Linked DNA regions of Homo sapiens. The protein of the gene in region 1 purifies or fractionates together with the protein of each later gene. This does not show direct contact. Each region holds a gene or a part of one and is shown in the gene's direction. Other genes may lie near its edges. The genes, in order: TTLL7 and ZMYM1.

Region 1 (10,137 bases):
GAAAATGTGTTGCCTTTAATTATGGAAGCAGAAAGGTGAGTACAAAGGCATTAAGTAAGTAATGAGTCCATGTAAGAACAACAACAATAGCAAAAAGAAAACAAAAGAAACTCTGAAGAGGTATCAACAGTGAAATTATTAAAATAGATAAAATGGTAGAAAAGAATGATAAATTCAAAGATTGCTTCTTTAAAAAGACAAATAAAATAAACATCATGTGAACCTGCTAAGGAAAAGATAATAAGATCATAATTAGACATGATCAATTGTGTGAAAGTAGGAAAGAGATTAAAAGAATTCTAAGTAAATACTAAAGATGATCCTAGCAACACATTAGGAAAATAAAACCTAGAAGAAGTGAATACTTTCCTAGGAAAATATACATGATCACAACTGACACAGAAGAAGTGAAAAACTTGAATAGACCAATTATTACAGAAGAGATTGGAGAAGTGATTAATGATCTGCTATTGAAGAAGGCCACAGGCAGATGAATTCACAGCTGAATTTTTAATCTAACTATTAAAGAACGGATAATTCCAATATTATTTAAACTATTGTAAGTCTTAGAAAAAAATGGAAAGTTCCCCAGTTAATTTCATGAAGCCAGACTAACTTGAGTACCAAAGCCTAAGAAGGAGTAAAACAACAATTAAAAGTACAGGCTGATTTCATTTCTGAATATAGCTGCCAAATGTTTAAATAACAGAGAATACAATAGAGGAATGAATCACGTGAATAACATGGTGTGAAAAAATAGGCTTTATTAGAGGAATGAAAAGGCGGTTCAATATCAGGAAGTCTAGCTACATATTGATTACATTAAAAATTAAAGGGAAAAAGCCCAACCATTATCAATAAGTTGTGGAAAGGCATCAGATAAAAGTCAAGTGACTTTAAGCAAAATAGAATCAGAAAAAATTTCTTTTATAATAAAGGAAAGCCCAATAGCGAACATCATCCCAAATCACAAAAATTAAATCTTTCACTTAAAATCTGGAATCAGGCATCACCACAATCACTTACATTAGTGATTCTAACAAATATAAATAAAATAACTGGTATAAATTATAACAAATATACATTTTTATATATTTTATAAACAGTCTCACTCTGTTGCTCGGAGTGGAGCCAGTGGCGTGATCAAGGCTCACTGCAGCCTTGAACTCCTGGACTAAGGGATCTTCCCACATTGGCCTCCTGAGTAGCTGGGACTGTAGGCTGGTGCCACCACGCACAGCTAATTTCTTATTTTTTATAGAGACAGATCTCCTTATGTTGCCCAGGCTGGTCTCAAATTCCTGGGGTCAAGTGTTCCTTTCACGCTGGCCTTCCGAAGTGTTGGGATTACTGGCATAAGCCATTGTGCCCAGCCAGAAACAAAGTTCTTGATATTGCTGATATGCCTGTTTTCTTGGAAAATCCAAGGGACTCATGAAAAAACAAGTAATAAGATAATTTGGTGCACTGAATGAATACAAAATAAATTACAGAAAGCATCATCTCTCTGTTCTGGTAGAAGACCCTACAAAAGGAAATGGAAAGAACATTTCATTCAGAATACAAGTGCTATAAAAAATTTGGTACAACTTTGGTAAGAAAGTTACAGAACATATATAAGCAAAATTATAAAAATATGATTGGGAAATGAAAAAACATAAACTAGAAAAGCTTATTATCTTCTTGGATGAAATGACTTACTGTCATGTAAATTCTCCAAAAATTAAAACAAAAGTCTAATGCAATATGACTTTTTGTCTTATATAAAATGCCGTATAATAATTAAAAAGGGCTTAAAGTCCAATATCTATATATAAAAGTAATTTTGAATGAGTATCATTTTAAATTTGGGGCTTTTTGAAGATTTGTTGAGAATGACAAAAACAACACTGAGAAAAATTCTAAACCCTTTAATAAATACATTTTATATGATAAATGTAAAATTACATAATGTAGGTTTTAAATAACAGCCTCTTATTTCCTTCTTAATAAAAGGTGGGATTAAGGGGTTAAGTCTAGAAGCCTGAATGTTATTTTTTGTAGGCCCCATATTGTTTTTGTCCAGTATGGTCTGGTCAAACTTGGCTGTACATTAGAACCACCTACAGAACTTCATAGGAATCTAGTTTCCAGAGTCTCATGCAGGAGTTCCTGCAATCATAATTTTGCAGCAAGAATTTTAGGCATCACTGGTCAAGTTTATGTTACAAGGTTCACTTCTTATTCTTAAATTCAGGGTCTCTTTTCTGAGCACAGAAACCTAGAAAAGGGTATCCAATGTTTAAATCTTCTGTGGGAAATGACTCATTTCCTCTTAGAAATGAGAGTTGAAAACAGGTTTTTAATAATAAATAAAAAATAGATTCTGCTGCAGAGAAACATGCAATGTACATGTTCTCTATAGCAGGAGACAGTAAAAGTATGCTGATATTCACGTCATGTATTGGTTAGTGTTTGAAATCCAGCTTTGTCTCTTTCCAATTGTGCTACCTTTGACAAATTAATACACCCTTGTAATTCTCAGTTTCTTCATTTATAAAATGGGAGTGATAATAGTACTTACTTCACATAATACTAGTTACTCAAACACTAATGATTTAATAAGTGTTAGCTAAACGCAAAGAGAAACAACACAATTAAGCACTCTCTTCAGCAAGAATAAGTTGAGAGGTTAATGTCACCACATGCTTTGGTAAGAGACCAACACATAGCAGGTACTGGAATATCTTGCATCAAGATTTAACATTTTGTGGCTCACAATGCAGTTTTATCAAAGGCATTAAGTATTCTCTTTCTCTCTAGCTCTCTTCTTATTAGTATCATTTAAAAAGTAATATTGGAATGTTCCCAGATCATGCTAGTTTGTGAATACAAATGAGTTCATGTTAATATCGGTGCCTAAATAAGGTTTAACAATCATCTTGAGTTTAATAATGATTCCCTTGACCCTGCAGTGCCTCCCTAGTCTCCATCATTTGCAGCAAGAAATCCTCAGCAGTGTCTTTCAGGTGCTCAGGAATAATACCACTCCTGCTTTACTGCTCTGGGCTCCTACTTAAGTTACCTTGACCTTGTATCGGCCACCAGTGTTCTTTATGAGAATATACCCTCACTGGGCAGATCAGTTCCTATCGCTGGCAAGGCTGTATGGAGGTCTATTTCAGGTTGGGTGAGAGAATGGCTCTCTTGCCAGCTCCATGCTGTCATTTGTCACCAGGCCTAAAGTAGTACTTCTTAGAACTTAAATTTCACAAAGTCATTTGTGGGGAAGATGATTATTTAGCTTCTGGCCCTAAGTTCTTTACACAGCAGGCTCAAAACCATTTGAGGACTCTGAGGAAAGCAGGGAATGCAGGCATCACACCATTCCTTCCACTTCTTTTGACAATTTCCCAAGGCTGCCAGCACAAAAATTCCCCTTTCTTCATTCAGAAACATATGTTCCAAGAGTGTCAACTTATACAAACAGATTGCTGCAGATGTCACTGGCCCATCCGCACCACAAATCATAAGGCTCTAAATTCCTTTCTATATCCCTATCATCTAACATCTGACATAAAGCACTAACTCAGAAGACGCCTCATCTACATGTGTTCTGTTCCTGTTGTTGCCTTTGAAAGTGAAACAACTGCACATGGAGAGAAGAATCACACATTTCTGAGCCTGAGGCCAGTCTGGCCACTGGGGACCCAATGCTCCTGCTCCTCGGCAACATGCAACTTTGGGGATTTCTGTTTTGCTGCTGCTGACGTGTGAATCTTTACAACAACCATTAACATAGTAACAATATCATATCATACAGAAACAATTTAATTTTATTCCTGATTTCTCAAAAAGCTTTCTTGAGGTGACGTTAAGTGTTGCTAATACCTCTGTTACTTAACATTTTTTTTGATAAGGTATATGAGGACCCATGATAATAGGTTTATTGAAAAATTCTTGCCCCTTCCTAGGAATGGAAGAATGATAACATGTAATGTAGTAATAGTGCATGCATAGTGTAAAGTGTAATACAGTGAAAATAATGATGTAAAGATGATTAACAAGAAGGCAGTGGAGAATTCCTCTTCAACCTCATGTGACCTTGACAGTGTATTGTGACGCTGATGTTCGGCTAGTTCTGGGTGAAGTCCAGCTTCTTCTTTCTGATCACTCTTCTTGCCTCAGGGTGATGCCTACCCTGGACACCTAACTGCCCCCTCTCCATTCTAAAACCCCTTCTCACAAAGGAAGGATAAACAGACTCACATTCAAGTTGCAATCACAGATGTGACACGGTTTAATGTATATCGTTCTCAGAGGCATTCTAGGGGAAAGGAACAAGTCAAAAACTCCAGGTGGCAATGTCTGCTCTGCCGCTTATGATCGTGAGACTAACCCAGCACGACAAACCCTGAGCCCAGTTTCTCACCAGTGTCCTTTATGAGAAGATGCCCTCACTGACCAGATCAGTTCCCAATGCTGGCAAGGCTGTATGGAGGTCTATTGCAGGTTACCAATCTCACAGGAGTTTTTAGAAGAATAAATGAAGAAATGAAAATGAGACTATTCTCAGCACAGTGGTCTATAGAAAGTGCTGAATTTATGTTGATTTACTCAACGAAGGACAAAACTTTAAATTGTGAAATTTTATATTTTTTGGGATGCACTTGGAGGGCCTTTTTTTTTCCTACCTTTAATCACATTTTATAGGTAGTTGCCAATTCTGTTCTATCTTTTCTTTTTTTCTACAGGGAAAACTGTACACTTGTCCTGATCTTCACCATGCTCTGAAATGAACCTGTGTGAACCCAGCGTGACAGAAGCAGGGACCACAAAAGTCTAAGGAATTCATGTGTTAGGACTTCTTCCAGTTCTATACAATTCATTTTATGAGAAGACATGATTGCCTTCCCGTTTTCAAGACACGCAACTCTAAAATGGTGAACAATGAACCTCGAATATTCTTTAATTTCTGCAACAATCTTCTGTAAATCTTTATCTCGAAATGGCTTCCTAAATCTACATTTTTTTACAACTGCCGTGGTTCAACATTTGCTTAGCAGGAACTCTAGGTCAGAGCTGTCCCTCAGCATCTACGGGATGGGGCCCCACCTGATTTTATTTCCTAACTTTCGAGCTGGCCTCAGATACCCGTTTATTCTTTGCTTCACAAAGATGCTTAGATAAAAGATCTGAAGACTCTCTTCAAAGATTCAAAAAGCTCCACTGTTTTGTGGGAAGATGTCTGTGGTCAGATAGGCAGGTGGATCGGGCGCCTAGGGCCCGGAGGTAGAAGGAGGTGGCCGGAGGCGCTCAGGCCAGCGCCTCTCGCATCTCTGAGGAGGGGCGCCGCCCAGGCGCTCGCGTTGCTAAGTCCTCTGTTTGCCGCGTTCTAAAGGAGCCCCGAGCGGGACCAAGGCAAACGGGGGGGGGGTGTGTGTGGCCCGGGAAAGCTCGAGCAGTGTCTTCAGTAAACCCCCAGAAGAGGCAGCGGCCCCTCCGTTGATCCCTCCTGTCCCCAGGACCTCCTGACTCCGAGGGGGCAGAGGATTCCCCGAGTCCTTTGTTCCTCCCAACCGTCGCCGCCCCCGGCGCCCGCGCCTCTCGGCACGTCGTGCACCCCCGGCCGCAGCAGGCGAATGGTCTGGCCCGTCGGTAGCCGCCACCCGCTTGGGCAGCGACAGCTGTTCCAGGCACTCCGCGTCGAGCACCGGAGTCCCGAGCCGTGGCTGCCACGGGCGGTGGGCGGGCGGAGGAGAGCACCGGACCACCAGTGCAGGCTGCCGAGTCGGGGCGGCCGCCCACGGGGAAGCTGCGAGGCGCGGGAGCACCTGGGGGACCGCTTGCAGCGGGGACGCGAGGACCCGGGCTGGGCTTTCCTCACCCGGGTGAGTACCTGCTGCCGCCATCCTCCCCCGACCCCCTTCCATGTCCCCACGTCCCCAAAGGCTCCGCCCTGGCCCTCTTTCCGGGCCCCCATCCCCGGACTGTCACTGCTCTGGGGACACCGTCCCCGCTGGGAGCCGCGGAACGGGGAGCTGCTGCGTTCGTGCAAATGATTCAGCACCATTCGTGCCCTGAGAGGTTTGGGCAGAATGGGGGAGGGAGAGGGCGGAGGGGACGGGGTCAGTTGCTGTGATCTCAGCTCAGTTTTTAGGCTCCAGATGGGAGACTCGGGCGGGCGGGGTCGGGTTGGGTGAACGAGGAGGCTCCCTGCTGGTTTATTCTGTAATTCCGTCGTTTTCCCACATCGTGGTATAAGCCTCCGCGAGTATGCGGGGCATTCTTGAAAGGGTATCAAAATGCCCTTTTCGCACATGCGAGTGAAGTCTAGGGCCCTTGTAGGTACCTCTCACTTTCTCCACATCTTGCTCTGTTGGATGCCTGACTCATGCCATCATCCACTTATATCACATCGCAGCGTTCCCTCGACTGATGTAAAAGATACCCTATGAAAGTTGCCTTGTATTCTGGGTGGGTTTGATTGATCCTGGCATAGAAAGAAAAGATTTAGGAGAGGTAGGAAATAATACCTTCATAGCCTAGGCACTTACTTTTATATATCGTATTTTATTAAATCATCATAATCCAGAACCAAATGTGGAAACTGAGGAGCAGGGAAGTTAAATTACATTCTCAAGGTCACAGAACAGGAATTCGAATATAGGTTTTCCTGACTCTATAGTCCATGGATTTTCCACTGTATTAATGGAGTGTGTCCAAGTGTACATATATATGCTCTATTAGATATTAAACATAGAATTAATTAATTGAGGAGTAATCTCAAACAACAGCAACAACAACCTGTAAACTTTCTGCATAAGGAATTATTGCTCCTTCAATATGAAAGAAAGATGCTTTGAATCATGTGAAAAATAATCTATTTTCTTAGAAAGCTTATGGCAAAAAATATGTGAACAACACTACATAGGAGAGTGAGGTCATAACAGGAGATGTTCAGCACATTTTTGGCAGTGATATTTGGTGGATGCTCAAGTGTTGGAGAAGTCGATTAAAAACGTAAGAAGAACTCTGGAAATCTTTTTCTGTCTTAAATGTTAGGGAGACATTTACAGTAATAATAGTTACTTAGTTCATGAGGTGTGCGACTGAACTGCACCCCACAATAGGGTGACAGGTGAACCCATACTAAGATAATGTTACTTGATTCATTACAACTCTGTGATATTGCATAACAGGTGATAACTCCATTTTACAGACTAAGGAACAAAATTCAGAGAAGGTTCAAGACCACTCAGTAAGCCATGGAATTTGGACAAGCCTTGACTCTTAGTCAGTTTAGAAATATGAGTGTTGTAGTAAAATGTAGTTCTTATATAGTGGGAAACTGAATTAGTTTGTTGTTACCCTGCCGTTAAGAGTCAACAATTATATTGACCTTCTATGCTCCTTCTGTAAAAATAATGGATGCTAGGTCTTTCTTCGCCCGTTGATGGGTCCTTTGACTTGCTTTCATTAGCGACTTACAGATTTTTTCTTAAGAAATGCATCTCTTGTTTATGTCTCAAGAGGCAGGTTGCTATAGTACAGATGCTCATTATCTCTAAATACTCACATAGTATTGATGGTAGGCAGGAACAGAGTCATCTTAGTATGTCATTTCTAAAGTATTGAACCATTTGCATTGGAGAATTCTTTTTCAAGTTAACGGGGGTATTGATAAAGTCCACTGCCTAAATAAGGACATAAAATGGAGGCACAAATTTATATTTGTTGTTCAAACAAGAGTATGAGAAGTGGGGTCTTGTGAAGAGTCTTGAGTTTGATTCCTAAAAGTCATTTCATTTTGTTCTTTACATGGCTATAACCTATATCCTGAACCTTGGCAAGGCATCTTGTAATCCAATCTGTTTAATCCTAAGGGGGACAGCAGAACTGGCATGAATGAATAAGCAAAAATACAATACCACTGCTGTTAAAAAAAAAAAAAGGAAAGTGCATGTCCTGGTGATGGATGGTCAGCAGCAACATTTTAAAACAGAGACAGCACATTTTACTTAGATGACATCACTGAGAGTATGAATATAATACCAACTTGGCTTTAGAACTGCTCTCTCTCCTCTGTCCAATGACTACAGTCTGCAAACCATCTAAATTCCCCACTTCAAGGAACTTAAAGTCTAGCAGGGGAAATTTTACTTACACGTGAGTAATTAACAAATAACTTAGAATTGGCTTAATACCAGAAAAGGGTGGTGCAGACCTACTGCTATAGCGGTACCTTAAGAGAAAAGAGAAATAGTAGAGCCTTGGATGATCAGAGGATCAGGAAAGTCTTCATGGGTTGAAGTGAATTAAATCAGTCTCAGAGACTGGAAGGATTCTGATAGGCAAAGAGAAAGCCACATAAAGGTTCAGCTAAGAAGTGCTCATCTACTGTTTGGATACATGGTGAAAGATCATGAAGAAACTTGAATGTCAGACAGTGAGATCTGTTTCTGATCTGTTAATCATTTCTCTTTCTTACATTCTCCATATCTGTTGCCCCGAGTCCCCTTCCAGGAAATGGTCTGTTTCCTGGGTACTAAAAGGATTGTCAACTAAACTGAGAAAAAGTTTTCTGTGCAAGTACAATTTTTCCTCTTCCAAAGGAATTTGCCTTTTAGCTCCGGCCCCCATTAGATAATTATGAACAATTTGGAAAGTTTAAGAATATAAAAAGGAAAAAAACACCCTCATAATTTGACCAACTAAAGACAATCACTATTCATTTTTGACATGTTTCTTTCCACTTTTTTCATGCGTAGTTTTAATTATGGTATCTATATTACTTTTATATTATTTTTAAATTTAAAATTCTATAACTTTAGTTTTCATTTAATTACAACTGGCTTAATACTAGGTTTAAAATGCCTAATAGCAGGCTTAAAAATGACTACATAATTTTCCATTTGGTAGATGTATTATCATTGCCTAATTGTTCCTCATTGTCACTATTGATGACATCATAATAAACAATTATTGATGATAATAATAGCACTGTGATGAACATCTTTGTGCGTATGCTTTTTTTTGTATTTTGAATATTAGTTCCTTTGCATAGAGTCTCAGAAATAAAATTTCTGGGTTAAAGGGTATGAGGTCTTGAAGTTGCACTATTTTAAGCAAGTTTTGAAACTACTGAGTTCTTATATTAGGCCATTCTTGCATTGCTATAAATAAATACCTGAAACTAGGTAATTTATAAGAAAAGAGGTGTAATTGGCTCACAGTTCTGCAGGCTGTACTGGAAGCATGGCAGCATCTGCTTCTGGGGAGGCCTTAGGAAGCGTCCAATCATGTTGAAGGGGAAGGGGGAGCAGGCACGTCACATAGCAGAAAGCAGGAGCAAGAGAGAGAGTGAGGGGGTGGTGCCACACACTTTAAGTGACCAGATCTTGTGAGAACTCAGAGTGAGCGCTCACTTACCGCCAAAGGGATGCATTAAGCCATTCATGATGGATATGTCCCCAGGATTCAAATATTTCCCACCCCCACCTCCAACACTGGGGAATAAAATTCAACATGAGATTTGGATAGGGACCCATATCCAAACTGTATCAATTCCCAGTGTTCAATTTGGAATACTTACATGTTGATTATAGAATATTTGCATATTAATAATTCATAACACCCAATCTTGTCTGTGGCTCCTCAGATTATAGTCTTTCAAGCAACTTCTTTTGATTAGACTAAAGACTGATTAAATCATGGAGACTGGGAGAAAGGCAGGCAGTTGGTGTTACTGAGGAGAGAAGATACTAAGTTGGAGAACAGGCTTGGTGAGAGTGAGTAAGAGTTGATAGTCAGAGAAGGAGAATATGTGATAGACTACTTTCTGGTTCCAGTGTTGTATTTGTGGACTTCAGCTGTAAACCTCTGCATTCCCTCACCCACAACACACATATCTATCTCCTTCAAATTTCAGTTTATTCTATCCTCTTATATCAGATTCCCAGGTCTCCAGCTTCAGGGTCCTGATATTGCAAGGCACAGCTGTGAGCTCACTTTTGCACTCTAATTTGGGGAATTCACAAAGGTGAGAGCAGGAATTTGGGACCTCTGCTTAGGTCTGAGCAGAAGTCCTGGGCACAAGGTATAAGGTGTAAGGGAGGGACAGTTGACAGACATTAAAGACCTCTCCTGCCTCCCCTG
Region 2 (10,266 bases), about 49 Mb from region 1:
TAATTAAATAATACAAGGTATATGGTGTTAAGTGCCACTACAAGTATATGTAAGAAAATTATTTGAGGAAAGATTAGACTGTTTGGAATTGGGTTTTTGCATAGGTAAAAGGATTGTTTAGGGTGTTGTGGGCCTAGCTAAGGTTAACACTTTTTTTCTTTTGCCAGATTCTACTTCCAGAGAAGGTTAACACATTTTGTTTTTGTTTTTCTTAACTTAATACAAATTACATTTTTTAATCTAAATTAATTTATGTAAATTAAAAAAAATTTTTTTAGACATATCACTAAAGAACCTATAAAGGATGAACTGACTTGAACTGTGAGTATTGTTTAAGTAGGGAAAACATTCCTTAGAATGTTTGTATATATGGCCAGGCACAGTGGCTCACACCTGTAATCCCAGAACTTTGGGAGGCCAAGGTGGGAGGATCACCTGAGCCCAAGAGTTTGAGACCAACTGGATGACAAGACCTTGTCTCTATAAAAAATACAAAAATTAGCCAGGCATAGTGGTGCACGCCTGTAGTCTCAGCTACTTCAGAGGCTACAACAGGAGGATCGCTTGAGCCCAGGAATTCAAGGAAGCAATGAGCTATGATTGTGCCATTGCACTCCAGCCTGGGTAACGAAGCGAGACCCTGTCTCTTAAAACAAAAAAAAGGAATGTTTGTATATGAACTGTGAACCAGCTGAAAGTTCTAATGAAAGAAAAAAATCACTAAAAAGGGTAATTTATTTGTAGTATTCTATTTAGAAATAGCCTAAAGTAGATTAATATTAAATAAGGGTATGCTTACCATTGAGTTGTTAACACTGGGGAATGTTACTCATCTAGGAACTATCTATTGCTTCTTCATGCCATGGACATTCAGGCATAGATCAAGTTTAGATATGGTGGCTATGAAATTGCCTCCTGCTCTGAAAAAATTGTCCTTTGTAAGAATCATTCTGCCCAATTAACAATTTCTTGGGTTAAGGTCTTTATGAAGACAATTAGCTGTTAATGATTAGAGCAAGCAGGGAAGGCTGGGTGTGGTGGCTCATTCCTGTAATCCCAGCATTTTGGGAGGGTGAGACAGGCAGATCACTTGAGGCCAGGAGTTCAAGACCATGGGCAACATCTCCACTAAAAATTAAAAAATTAGCCGGGCATGGAGGCATGTGCCTGTAGTCTCAGCTACTTGGGAGGCTGAGGCAGAAGAATCACTTGAACCCAGAAGTAGGTTATAGTGAGACGAGATCGCGTCACTGTACTCCAGCCTGGGTGACAGAGTGAGATCTTGTCTCAAAAAAAAAAGAAAAAAAAAAAAAAACAAGTAGGGAAAATAGTTGTAATTCAATATGTCTGCTCCCTATTGATAGTGAATGGAGGGATTTTGTTGACAAAGATTTTGATGTCACACCTGGATACCATAGAAAATAATGTATTGGGTGATTAGTGTTGTCAGCCAAAGAGCACCAAAAGGGTAGTGCATACCTGTGTATTTTGGTTCAATTCAGTTATACAATTCATTGACCAGACTTGACCACAATTTATCATTTTCTGTTGAATGACTGGTTGTCTTAAATTCATTGTATTCACTATTTTTAATTATTATTTTTTTTTTCTTTTTAGGAGTATTGTCATAGGCAACAGTCCAGAACTCAGGAGAATGAACTGAAAATAAATGCTGTGTTTTCAGAGAGTGGTAATAGAATTATTTAAGTTAGTTATGTTTATTCAGACCAATACGACAGCTGATTCATTCTTTTTTAATGCCTTTGAATATTGCTTTGTTTGTGTTGGGTTTTAAGTCCAGGAGAAGTAACCTGTAAGAAAATGAAAGAGAGGCCGTGCACAGTGGCTCACACCTGTAATCCCAGCACTTTGGGAGGCCGAGGCAGGCGGATCATGAGGTCAGGAATTCGAGACCAGTTTGGCCAACATAGTGAAACCCTGTCTCTACTACAAATACAAAATTAGCCAGGCGTGGTGGCGCATGCCTGTAATCCCAGCTACTCAGGAGGCTGAGGCAGGAGATTTGCTTGAACCTGGGAGGCAGAGGTTGTGGTGAGCCAAGATTGCACCACTGCACTCCAGCCTGGGCAACAGAGCGAGACTCTGTCTAAAAAAAAAAAAAAAGAGAAGAAAATCAAAGAGGCTGGGCATGGTGCCTCATGCCTGTAATCCCAACATTTTGGGAGGCCAAGGTGGAAGGATCAGCTTGAGGGCAGGAGTTTGAGACCAGCCTGGGCAACATAGCGAGATCCTGTCTCTACAGAAAATTTAAAAACCAGGTGTGGTGGTGCATGCCTATAGTCCCAGCTACTTGGGAGGCTGAGGCGGGAGGTTTTTTTTTTTTTTCTGAGATGGAGTTTCCGCTCTTGTTGCCCAGGCTGGAGTGCAATGGCACGATCTTGGCTCACTGCAACCTCTGCCACCCAGGTTCAAGCAGTGCTCCTGCCTCAGCCTCCCAAGTAACTAGGATCACAGGCCCGTGCCACCACACCCAGATAATTTTGTTTGTTTTGAGACGGAGTCTCGCTCTCGCTCTGTTGCCAGGCTGGAGGGCAGTGCATGATCTCGCCTCACTGCAGCCTCCACCTCTCAGGTTCAAGCGATTCTCCTGCCTCAGCCTCCCGAGTAGCTGGGACTACAGGCATGTGTCACCATGCCCAGCTAATTTTTATAGTAGAGACGGGGTTTCACCATATTGCCCGGGATGGTCTCAATCTCTTAAACTCGTGATCCACCCACCTTGCCTCCCAAAATGCTGGGATTACAGGCGTTAGCCACCACACCTGGCTAATTTTGTATTTTTAATTGAGATGGGGTTTCACCATGTTGGCCAAGCTGGTCTTGAACTCTGACCTCAGGTGATCCACCTGCCTTGGCCTCCCAAAGTGCTGGGATTACAGGCGTGAGCCACCGCACCAGGTGGTGAGAGGGTCACTTGAGTACAGGGTGTCAAGGCTGCAGTGAGCCATGATCGTATCACTACACTGCCTAGAGTGCAAAAGAGGGCAACAGAACAAGACCCTGTCTCTAAAAAAAGAAAGAAAGAAAATAAAGGAATGCCTACTTAATTTTGTGTAAATAACAATTTTTTTTTCTCCCTCTTGTGTTTTTATAGCTTCACAGTTGACTGCAGGCATTCAGCTTTCTCTGGCATCATCTGGCGTGAATAAAATGCTTCCTTCAGTTTCAACCACAGCTATTCAGGTTTCCTGTGCTGGTTGTAAAAAAATTCTCCAGAAGGGGCAAACTGCTTATCAGAGGAAAGGATCTGCTCAACTTTTCTGCTCCATACCATGCATCACTGAATACATTTCATCTGCCAGTTCACCAGTTCCTTCTAAGAGAACTTGTTCAAACTGCTCAAAGTATATAATTCTAAATTATGCCCCCTTTTATTTCCCTACCTTGTTCTTGATCATAGTCTTAGTTGTAATTTCTACATTTTCTTTTTTTATTTTTTGAGACTGAGTTTGACTCTTGTTGCCCAGGCTGGAGTGCAGTGGCACGATCTCGGCTCACTGCAACTTCCACCTCCTGGGTTCAAGCGATTCTCCTGCCTCAGCCTCCCAAGTAGCTGGGATTACAGCCATGCACCACCACGCCCGGCTAATTTTGTATTTTTTAGTAGAGATGGGGTTTCGTTCGCCATGTTGGCCACGCTGGTCTTGAACTCCTGACCTCAGGTGATCCGCTTGCCTTGGCCTCCCAAAGTGCTGGGATTACAGGTGTGAGTCACTGCGCCCGGCCATTTTCATTTCTTTTGAAGACGTGTCGTCTTGGTTTAGTAAAAAGAAGTTTTTTCTACTTTTAGTTCCTCTGATGGATTCTGTAGAAATATTTTTTTTTGCAGAAATTAATGTGAAAAGTACTGTTTCTCTTCACCTTTACTCTTTTCATTTGAAATTCTCTGTAAATGGGATTATTGTTTATCCATTCTGTTCTATTTAACTGTATAGGGAGCAACCTACTAAAAAATTAATCCTATGACAGTTAGTTTGGATTTTCCAAGATGTGGAATAATATTATATTTCTTTTATAATGGTAAATGAAGTGATTCTTTTGAAAAATTGATGGCCATAGATAAACCTACATGTCTCTATGTAATCTTTTAAAAATTTATGTGAGAATGTGTGAAGAATCAGTGTCATTTTGGCTTTGAGAGTCCTAAGGCTGTATAATTATGGTTGTTAGCACTTAGGATATGCTAATTTTTAAATGTTCTTGTTCAGAACAAGAAAATCCATAGGCAACCACAGTGCTTCTAAATATAACAAATTTCTTTCAAATAATACTTGTTTTGGACTCAGGTTGCCATAATTTGAATTTTGCTTCTTCTGTTTAGTTATATTTTACTACTCAAAGTTTCATCCCTGAGTTGCTAGATCAGCATCACCCAAGAGTTTGTTAGAAATGCACTTTCTCAGGCTGGGAGCAGTGGCTCACGCCTGTTATCCTAGCACTTAGGGAGGCCGAGGTGGGCAGAATGCCTGAGCTCAGGAGTTTGAGACCAGCCTGGCAACACAGTGAAACCCTGTCTCTACTAAAATACAAAAAAATTAGCTGAGCACTGTGGCATGCACCTGTAATCCCAGCTACTTGGGAGGCTGAAGCAGGACAATTGCTTGAACCCGGGAGGCTAAAGTTGCAGTAAGCTGAGATCAGGCCACTGCACTGACTGTCTCAAAAAGAAAAAAAAAGAAATGCACTTTCTCAGGTCTTACCCAGACCTGCTGATTCAGAACTGCATTTATCGCCATGTGATTCCTATACATGCTAAAGTTGGAGCAGTATTGAGAACTTCTTTGTTACTTAGTATTCGTATCTGTTTTTGATAAATGTACAAAAGAATTATGAGCATTAAATAGTATATTTAAGTGGTCAGAACAATACCAGCATGTAGTAAGAACTCAATAAATGTTAACTATTATTATTCTCTTAACAAACTCACAAACCCTTTTGATGGGTTTGCTTCAGCTCCTCTGGCTGCTGCTTCAGTTATTATCTGTTGCTTCAGGTCTTATTCCATGGCACGTTACTTACCATTCTCTTTTGCTTTTCAACCCTTCAATACTATACTAGTCTTTTGTCTTTTTACTTTTTTGCTATGGGCCATATAGTACTCTCTTCAGCCTGCTTTCTCTCCCTGCAGAGTCATAAAACTGGAAGGGACCTTAGAGACTCACTACACATCTTCAGCAGATGTCCCAGACAGATTGAAAAAGGCTGAAGCAGGAAAGATTTAGTGTGTAAGTTCTCCTAGGCATGGAAATCCAATATGAGTAAAAATCTGAGATAAGTTTTACTTCCTCTAGAATAAAATTTTTTTATAAAAAATATTATATTGTAGTGGGTAGAAAGATGGTAGTAAATTTTAGGCTGGAAAAGGCCATCCATGATTCAGAGTAGGCTGCTTTTTTCAAAACTTAAAAATTCCACATTAATTAGCCTTTTACATAAATTTTAGCTATTCTTCTGGGGTTTTTTTATCTTCCAGTGAAACTATCCTGAACTGAAAATAATTTTCAGTTACTTATTTATTTATTTTTGCAGAGACAGAGTCACTATGTTTCCCAGGCTGATCTTAAACTCCTGAGTTCAAGTGATCCTCCTGCCTTGGTCTCCCAAAGTGCCGGGATTACAGGTGTGAGCCACCGTGCTGATTTTCAGTTTTGTTTGTTTGTTTGTTTTGTTTTGTTTTGTCTGAGACGGAGTCTCGTCTCAATCTGTCACCCAGGCCAGAGTGCAATGGTGCAATCTTGGCTTACTGCAACCTCCACCTCCTGGGTTCAAGCAATTCTCCTGCCTCAGCCTCCCAAGTAGCTGGGATTACAGGCGTGTGCCACTGTGCCCAGCTAGTTTTTTTATTTTCAGTAGAGATGCAGTTTCGCCATGTTGGCCAGGCTGGTCTCGAACTCCGGACCTCAGGTGATCTGCTTTCCTCGGCCTCCCAAAGTGCTGGGATTATAGGTATGAGCCACCACGCCCTGCCTGATTTTTAGTTACTTTTTAAGATTTCTTTTATAGGAATGATTTAATATCTGTTTTGAGTCAATGCACTTTTTATTCTATTTCATGGACCAAATGGAAGATCCCTTTGAAGATGACATTTTAAATCTTATTAGAAAGATGCGATTTGTGGGCCAAGCGAGGTGGTTCACACCTGTAATCCCAGCACTTTGGGAGGCCAAGGCAGGAGAATCACTGGAGGTCAGGAGTTCGAGACCAGTCTAGCCAACACCACAAATCCCTGTCTCTACTAAAAATATAAAAATTAGCCAGGCGTGGTGGTGTGTGCCTGTAAACCCAGCTACACCAGTGACTGAGGCAGGAGAATTGCTTGAACCCAGGAGACGGAGGTTGCAGTGAGCTGAGATTGTACGACTGCACTCCAGCCTGGGCAACGGAGTGAGACCCTGTCTCAAAAAAAAAAAAAAAGATGTGACTTGTTCTTGGGAACTTTGTATTTAAGAAGTGTCATTTCTTCACTTTAGTATCTCAGTTGGAACCAACCGCAAATCCTGAATGCAATCAATAAAGTCCAAAATAGGCCCCTGCACTAAGGTTTGATTTATTTATCGGAAAGTTGTTCCTAATTTGTTGGCGTTTCTTTTTTTTTTTTGAGACAAGGTCCCTGTCTGTCACCCAGGTTGGAGTGCAGTGGCACCATCTTGGCTCACTGCAGCCTCGACCACCTGGGCTTAAGCAATACTCCCACCTTTACCCTCCCAAGTAGCTGGGATTGCAGGCACATGCCACCCTGCCTGTCCAGTTTTTGTATTTTTTTGTAGAGATGATTTCACCATGTTGTCCAGACTGGTCTTGAACTCCTGGGCTCAAGTGATCCTCCTGGCTTGCCCTCCCAAAGTGCTGGCATTATGGGCGTGAGCCACCGTACCCAGCCAACATTCTTTTTTTTTTTTTTTTTGAGGCGGAGTCTCACCGTTTTGCCCAGGCTGGAGTTCAATAGCGGGATCTCAGCTCACTGCAACCTCCGCCTCCCAGGTTCAAGCGATTCTTCTGCCTCAGCCTCCCTAGTAACTGGGATTACAGGTGCCTATCACCATGCCCCGTTAATTTTTGTATTTTTAGTAGAGATGGGGTTTCACCGTGTTGGCCAGGCTGGTCTCCCAACTCCTGACCTCAGGTATCTGCCTGCCCCAGCCTCCCAGGATTACACATGTGAGCCACCGTGCCTGGCCAACATTCATTTTTCAATTTTTTATAAAGCTTTAGTAGATTCTTAGAAGCCAGCAATCTAGTATGCTGATAGCAATAAAAACTAAGAAGCATTTTCAGACTTCCATGCGTCGCTGATGTAGTTTCTTCTTCCTCCCTTCCCATCTGGCTGGTATCTTTATTCTGTCTGAAAGGTATGCCTCAAATATCTTTACCTTTTGTCTATTCCCACACCATTCCTCACTCTCCTCTTACAACCGCCCACCCCCCAAATTAATTCTTCTGTGGTCTGTGATTTTACAGTGTCGTGTTCATAACTCCCAAAACATTGATCACAAAATACTAATGTTTTTAAATATTTTTAGTAGAGACGGGGTTGGCCAGGCTAGTCTCGAACTCCTGACCTCAAGTGATCTGCCCACCTTGGCCTCCCAAGATTAAAGGTGTGAGCCACCGCGCCTGCTATTAGGTGTATTGATATTTTCTATAGTGGCTGTTCTCAAACTTTCTGGTCTCAGGACTTCTTGTACCCTTAAAAATTATTGAACACCCAAAGAGCTTTAGTTATGTAGATTATGAATATTAACTGTATCAAAAATTAAATGACATTTTAAATGAAAAATACCCATATTTTTAAAAATTGATAAGTATTGTTTTATCAGTTTTGCAAATCACTTTACATCTAGCTGGATTTTTGTATCTGTTTCTGCCTTCACTTTATTGCAAAGTGTTGTTTTGGTTGAAGTCTGAAGAAAACCTGGCCTCATAAATAGGTGATTGGAAAAGGGGGGAGTGTTTTAGTAGCCTTTTAGATCGTTGTGGGTGTTCTTTGATACTACAACCAAAAATCAAGTGGTAGTTTCTTAAAGGCTAGTTGCAATGTGGGATCAAACTTTTTGTACCATGTGGATCAGTGAACTTTTTGCACTCTGTTATGTTAGAATTCGTTAATCTATCTTGTACTTTGAATGGATCTTTTACCCGTGAATGATTTTTGTAATATGCTATTGTAGTTTGGAAAATACTGGTTCACTGAGTTCTGCAGATCTTCTAGATGTTCTCATTTTATTATGCAGTATTTTAAAAATCACCACTAATCTCAGAAAAGTTTTTAAGTTTTGGGTATCGATCAAGTTGAAGTTGGAAGATACAAGTTTTCCAAAATTCTAATTATCACTTGAAAGACAAAATTTTATTGTTGGCGATAAATACTGTCGTTTTACTTGAAGTGACAGTCTCATTTTTTTCATTTTCAAGAAAATATCTGCAGATACCCACTTCTGGATAATAGTTTGTCTTTATTTACAGTAAACTGTTTACAGTACTTTCAAGTAAAAATGTTTTCCATGAAAAAAGTGGCTAATTCATTTATAACTCAACATTTCCATATGGGCTTTTCCTTGAGACAACCATCATCCTTTGGTGTACAGAAGTACTTTATGCTTATGTCCTGTGTTGTCACACGGAATTTTTTTTTCTCACCCTACCACTTGGCCAAGACAGAATATTTTTTAAATGTACTTAAGGATGAAGTTTAAATAATTTAAAATATTTTGCTGTTTCATTGAGTACTTCCTTAAGTGAAACTGATACTTTAAAAAGAATTTTTTTTGGCAGTGAATGTATAGCAGGGAATAACATGAATATTAGCACATTTTGGTGCCACTGCCTTGATTTCTGCTAAGGCTCTGACGGTTTTACCCACCATTGCCTTTTTTCTTTTCCAAATTCATTGAAGTGAAATTTGTATACCAAGAAATTAACCATTTCATTGGCATTTAGTATATTCATAATGTTGTGTGACCATCCCCTCTATCTTGTTCCAAAACATTTCCATCACTTCAAAGTAAAACACCTTAAACACTAAGCAGTTTCTCCTAATTTCCCTCTCCCCCCAGTGCCTGTCAACCACCAGTATGCATTATATCTATAGATTTTATCTATCCTGAATATCTCATGTAAATGGAATCATATATGACCTTTTTGTGACAGGGTATTATTACTCTGTTGCTCAGGCTAGAGTGCAGTGACTTTTTGTGTCTGGTTCTTTCCCTTAGCATAATATTTTCAAGGTTTGTCCATGTTGTAACATGTATCAGTACTTTATTCTTTTTGTTAATAGGCGAATAATATTCCACTGTATGTATGTAACACAATGTGCTTATTCATTCATTCACTTACTGATGAACATTTGGGCTGTTTTCATCTTTTGACCATTGTGAATAGTGCTGTTATGAATATGCACGTACATGTGCTTGTTTGAGTACCTGTTTTCAGTTTTTTTGGGTGTTTACCAAGGAGTGGGATTGCAGGGTCCTACCATTAGCTTTGCAACATCAGTTGCAAAGTGATGTTGCAAACATCAACACGGTGAAAAAGCAAATAACATCTTACTATGAAAATAGTTTTGATCTTGGGGACTCCCCCAGGGATTTGAAGACCATATTTTAAGATTCTCTGTCCTATAGATTCTAGAGTTGCTCATGTGAATATGTGATCTCTCATCATCCCTCGGTTTTCACTAGCACCACCTAATAATACAGGCTGGCTAGTCTCCAAAACTACATCTTCAAAGTCAGGCATGGTGGGATTATGTGCCTGTAATCCTAGCTATGTGGGAGATTGAGGTGGGAGAATCTCTTGAGCCCAGGAATTTGAGGCCAGCTTGGGCAACACAGCAAGACCCTATCTCTTAAAAAACAAAACTGCACTATTAGATGTGCTTTATAATCTGTAATGTATAGATGAGAAAATTAAAATTTAGGGAGTATAAATGTGACAGAACTGGGTACCAAATTCAGGTTTTCTTATTTCAAGGCTAATGTTCTTACTCTAATTTGAGAGGTCATTTCATTTATAAAGAGAAGTTATAATTGTGTTTAAACTGTTTAATGATGTCCTTGTTATTTATTCTTAGAGACATTTTAAATCCAAAGGATGTGATTAGTGTCCAGCTGGAAGACACTACCTCTTGCAAAACTTTTTGCAGCCTATCTTGTCTTTCATCATATGAAGAAAAAAGAAAACCATTTGTTACCATATGTACTAATAGCATTTTGACCAAGTGCAGCATGTGCCAGAAGACTGCTA

Evidence for each region.
Region 2: the proteins of TTLL7 (region 1) and ZMYM1 purify together in Homo sapiens (affinity purification with mass spectrometry; 2 studies listed by BioGRID and IntAct, with this or other methods). This does not show direct contact.

What each region holds. Positions count from the first base shown.
Region 1 is NC_000001.11:83,994,664-84,004,800, reverse strand, and holds the start of TTLL7 (tubulin polyglutamylase TTLL7), read left to right. Parts: upstream 1-5,668; 5' UTR 5,669-5,870; intron 5,871-10,137. UniProt on the Homo sapiens protein: Polyglutamylase which modifies tubulin, generating polyglutamate side chains of variable lengths on the gamma-carboxyl group of specific glutamate residues within the C-terminal tail of tubulin.
Region 2 is NC_000001.11:35,094,202-35,104,467, forward strand, and holds part of ZMYM1 (zinc finger MYM-type protein 1), read left to right. Parts: intron 1-1,617; coding exon 1,618-1,690; intron 1,691-3,115; coding exon 3,116-3,365; exon of another isoform or gene 3,366-5,246; intron 5,247-5,619; exon of another isoform or gene 5,620-5,641; intron 5,642-10,093; coding exon 10,094-10,266.